Regions from separate parts of the Homo sapiens genome. Here region 2 is linked to region 1. The links come from fine-mapping of genetic effects on gene expression. Tissue or cell type: whole blood. Region 1 holds a variant in brackets; the other region holds the start of a gene. All regions are shown on one strand. Distances are from middle to middle.

Region 1 (2,765 bases):
CCCATGGTAAATGCTTCCTGCCCTTGAACATCGGACTCCAAGTTCTTCAGCTTCTGGACTCTTGGACTTACACCAGTGATTTGCCAGGGGCTCTTGGGCTTTCAGCTACAGACTGAAGGTTGCTCTGTCAGCTTCCGTACCTTTGAGGTTTTGGTACTTGGACTGGCTTCCTGGCTCCTCAGCTTGCAAACAGCCTATTGTGGGACTTTACCTTGTGATTGTGTGAGTTCATTTTCCTAATAAACTCCCCTTCATATATATATATATATCTCCTATTAGTTCTGTCCCTCTAGAGAACCCTGAGTAATACAAGTACTAAACTTTATTTAGCTGCCAATTTCTGTTCTAAATCTATGTTTGTCAGGGAACAACTGGTCTGCAAATGCTAATGGCTTTACCTTGGCTCTCCTTCCTTACTTACTCACAAGCAGGTAGTTTCTGGTCCACCATTTTACCTGGGAGATAACGCCTTTGAGTATTCTGGCCGTAAGTGGAGTCTCAGACACAGCTCCCCACTTTGGGTGGCCTCAAGAACACACCCACGGAGGGAGTGTTCTAACCTCAGGGCATCCTTGGGGGCATCAATCAAGGAGAGATGGGGCCACAGGCCTGAGAGCAGGAAGCTGCAGAATTCTCCAAGGCACTGCTCAGGGTCCCCAGTCCAGAGGTCTCCTGTGTGTGGATATAGAATCTAGTGTGACCCTTTGACAGAGACGCCTCGTTGAGCCTTTGTGTCAGAGACACCACTTTTCATCCATTAATGATCGGCCATTTATCATGATGCAAGAGGAGAAAGAGAAAACAGGGGGTTCCAGCAAGGCCAGAGCAGCCAGAGATGGTGAACGATGTCACCCAACATCTGGCTCCCAAGTTTATGGAGGAAGAAGGGGATGTTTTGTGTCTTCTGGGGTTTCCTTTGGTAATGTGTCCCTGTGGTGGCCCTTGGTGTGCTATGATGAGCCACCTGCAGCAGTCAGCACTAGGAAGCCCCAGTAGAGATTGTGTTACCAGCGTGGCAGAGAACTCACAGCCTCTCCCCTGCTTGGTGAACAGGTGCTCCCCCTGGAATCATATGACATCAATCACCCATCACATGATCACCCATGATGTGACATCACCCATCACATGATTGCCCATCACGTGATGTCGCCCATCACGTGATATTGCCCATCACATGACATCACCCATCATATGATCGCCCATCACGTGATGTCGCCCATCATGTGATATCACCCATCACGTGACATCACCCATCACATGATCACCCATCACATGACATCACCTATCACATGACCACCCCCGCATGACATCACCCATTACATGATATCACCCATCACATGACCACCCATCACATGACATCACCTGTCACATGATCACCATCACATCACCCATCACATGATTGCCCATCACATCACCCATCACATGACATCACCCATCACATGACCACCCATTACATGACAGCACCCATCACATGATCACCCATCACATGACATCCCTGTCACATGACATCACTCATCACATGATCACCTATCACATGACATCACCCATCACATGACATCACTCATCACATGATCACCCATCACATGACATCACCTGTCACATGACCAC[A/C]TGTCACATGGCATCACCCATCACATGACATCACCCATCACATGATCACCTGTCACATGATCACCTGTCACATGACATCACCCATGATATGACATCACCCATCACATGATCACTTGTCACATGATCACCCATCACATGACATCACCCATCACATGACATCACCCATCACATGATCGTCGATCACATGACATCACCTATCACATGACCACCCCCACATGACATCACCCATTACATATCACCCATCACATGACCACCCATCACATGACATCACCTGTCACATGATCACCCATCACATGACATCGCCCATCCCATCACCCATCACATGACATCACCCATCACATGACCACTCATCACAGGATCACCTTGTCACATGACCACCTGTCACATGGCATCACCCATCACATGACATAACCCATCACATGGCATCACCCATCACATGACATCACCCATCACATGACATCATGCATCACATGACATCACCCATCACATGACATCACACATCACATGACATCACCCATCACATGACATCACCCATCACATGACATCACCCATCACATGACATCAATGTCCCATAGATAAGCAGAACACTAAATTGATTCTGTAGAGTGAATATGGGATGGAAAAATCCAACTCTAATCATACCCTACTCACCAAGCAGGAAAGACATGCATAAGCTTCACCTGAAAGTCTTATTTTAGGGCATTGTTGTGTAATCCCAGCATTTTGGGAGGCTGAGGCAGGATGTTTGCTTGAGCCCAGGAATTTGAGACCAGCCTGTACTGGCAAGACCCCCCATCTCTATAAAACATTTAAAATAATAAATAAATAAATAAATAAATAAATAAATAAAAACAAAGGCTGTGATTCCAGGAGCAGAATATTTGGTAATGGAACATAAAGAAAGACAAAGGCCAGGCAGGCCATTCGAGGCATCAGTTCAAGTCCATGCCCATGAGCTGCCTCCTGCCTGCTCAGGCAACCTCCCAGGCAGCTGAAATCAGAAAAACAGATGAGGGTCACAAGCATTCAGCTTCCTGGAAAGGAGTGTCCCCAAAATAAATCACTTGAGTTATTGTAGGGTCTCAGTCTCTCTTCTTGTCTGGATGGTGGTCGGGTTCTAGATTTGCAGGAATGAGGACCAGACCCAGGTAAATTCA
Region 2 (2,765 bases), 32 kb before region 1:
TGAGGCAGTGGGACATCAGGATGTCATGTATCCATTCACCCATTCATCCTTTCAACAGCCAGTTTGTTAAACTGCACTTGGCAGACTCTGGAATGATAACGGGCACAGCTGTGAATGAGACAAGAGGCTGCACCTGCTCTCAAGGGGCGGCCACCCTAGATGGGAGCAGACATTGACTCGCCAACAGAAAGACTGAGGAAGACGAGAGGGAAGTGTGAAATGGGTCATGAGGACCCCTAAAAAGCGAGCCACCATAACCCGGGAAGGTCAAGGAACACGCAGGCAACCCTGTCGGCTGGAGCCAGGCAGAGGAGTGGGAGGTTGAGGGTCTGGACAAAGGCCCGAGTGGGGAGGGTGGCAGCACCAGTGTGAACCTGGATCCAGGAGGCTGGAGACACCTACCAGGTGCTGGGGCCTGCCAGGACCTGTGTGCAGAGGCCAGGTCAGGTGGGTGCCATCCTGTGACAGCAGGAGCCATTGGGAGTTCAGCAGCGCCTCCCCAGGGCCATGTGTGTGTGTCAGGGATCACATTGCTGATTCTGTGGAGAATGAAAGGGGTGGGTATGAGCAGAAGGGGAGACCAGGTCAGCCCATGAAAGAGCCGGGATACTTCAAAGCCAGGCCCAGGCCAGACCTGAGCACTGGGCTAATTGGAGGCCCTGGGATTGCACTGGGCTAGAGATAGTCCCATGATGTGAGTCTGGGGGCATCAACACCAATGACCCCAGTGCATGCTGTGTCCCTGAGAGTGTAAATGGAGGGAGGACAGGGCAGGTCGAGGGTGCAGAGACCCCTTCATGGTGCCAGGTTTGCCCAGACTCCCATCACTCTCCACTCAACCTCATGGCTGTGTGCACATACTGGTGCTATTGACTCTGATAGGAAGAAAGGAACAGAAATCTGTAGGAGGGTTGGGAGAGTCAAGGAATATGCTTAAGGCATGAGAAGGTGGAGAAGGGGTGATGCCCTCCAGGACAGACAGGAGGTAAATCCTGTGTCTGACTAGCCTCCTTGCCCTTTCCAGGGTAAAGACACCCTGAGCCCATCACGTCAGGAGAACCAGCCATGCCGAGTGTGGATAGACCTGGGTTCCCGCCTCCTGGGAAGGCCTGTCTGCCATGTCTGCTCCCTGCGGAGGCCCCTGGCCATCACAGTGGACCCAGGATAGACACCAGCAGCCGCTGCTCATGACAAACTGTCCTCTCAGTCACCAAACACCCCTCCGTGTGCCCTGGGGTGTGTGCTGGCTCAGTCGCAGCCTCACATCCTCCACAAAGTCCCACTTCAGCATCTTCACATGTCTGAACTCTCTCTCTATTCTCAGTTCTCTGCCCTGATTCCCACTGGGGCATGGATTTTGGCAAGAAGACAAGATGGAAAAGGAGGGTCTCGGGTGGGTGATGCCGCTGTGTGTGTAGGTCTGGGGGCAGGGGCACAAGAGGAAAACTCCCCAAGCCTGTGGGATTTTAACCTGGTTGGGGACTCAGCACCAAAAAGGGACATGCAGATGGTGTCTGGGTTCATAGCGCTAACTTCTGAGGCCAGAAGAAGAGCTGGGGGTCTTAGGGGCAGAGGTCTCTGCGGGGACCTAGCTGAAGATTAAGGGACACAACCTCTCTCTGGTCACCTCCAAGGCTAAAGAAGGTGGCAGATTTAGCCTCCAACCACAAGATTGTCCATCCTGACCAGGAAGTGACATGTCACAGAGGGTGGAGCAGCCCATGTGGTAGGAAATGGCCCAGCTTGGCTCTGCCTTCTGCAGTGTGAGTAACACACTGAAGCCAGAAGCTGTGGGCTGTGGGGAAGTGGCTGCATCGCCACCCAAGGGACCCTGGACTTTGCCAGACGTCAGGGTTGAGAGGAGCCACTAGCACCATCCCAGAGCTGTCAGCACCGGCCTCAGCCCAGGCGGCTCTCTCCCTGAGCTTCCTGTACCCTGACCCTCTCCAGCCTCAGACCTGAGACAGGGCTGGACAAGGAAGCAGAGAGCAGAAGAAAAGCAGAAGCGAAGCTCAGATCTGCTGGGAGGAGATTACATTTTGTCCCCTCCTGGGGTCTTGCACAGTGGCAGGTGACATTCGTGTTACAGGAATGACTGCCAGGGCCTGGGCCTCGTGGCGGTCTTCAGCTCTGCTCCTCCTGCTTGTCCCAGGTGAGTGGGCCGACCCTGGACTTGGGGAGCTCTGTCCTGAGTGGGAGAGGGCAGGGAGGGGTGCAGGCGCTGGAGTAGCGGTCATAGAGGGGAGTGGGGCAGGGAGAGGGGAGGAGGGCAAAGGAGCACCCAGGAGCGGTCAGCAGCTGCCTCACCAGGGGACAGCAGGCGGCAGGGCACAGCACGGGGGAGGCCTATTCCTCTGTGCCCGAGACAGGAAGCCCTGGTGGGAGGTGATGCTGTGACTGTCATTGCCAAAGTTATCCAATCACAAATTTTATCTGGGACGATCACACACACAGTCACACTCACACGCACACACGGTCACACTCACACAGTCTCACACACATGCACACACAGTCACACTCACACAGTCTCACACACACATGCACACAGTCACACATGCACACACAGTCACACTCACATGCACACACAGTCACACATGCACACACAGTCACACACAGTCACACTCACACAGACAGTCACACTCACACAGTCACACACACAGAGTCACACTCACATGCACACACAGGCCCGCACACACCCAGTGTTTCCCTAGCCTTGCCTTTCCAGTCTCCATGGAAACTTCCCATGCCCTTCCCACCTCTGCACA

Evidence for each region. PIP is the estimated chance that this variant, and not a neighbour inherited with it, causes the effect.
Region 2: CD300C starts here. The variant in region 1 is fine-mapped to the expression of CD300C in whole blood (TOPMed, PIP above 0.99). The same link has a PIP of 0.9 or more in monocytes.

The regions. Positions count from the first base shown.
Region 1 is chr17:74,513,377-74,516,141 of GRCh38, reverse strand. No RefSeq gene overlaps it. Among named protein-coding and RNA genes, the nearest start is that of CD300LB, 17 kb to the left of the region's middle. The variant A/C (reference allele first, on the strand shown) is at 1,609.
Region 2 is chr17:74,545,109-74,547,873 of GRCh38, reverse strand. It overlaps CD300C (CD300c molecule), which reads left to right and starts at 1,759. Exons shown (of 4, transcript NM_006678.5): 1 at 1,759-2,152. The coding sequence starts at 2,092.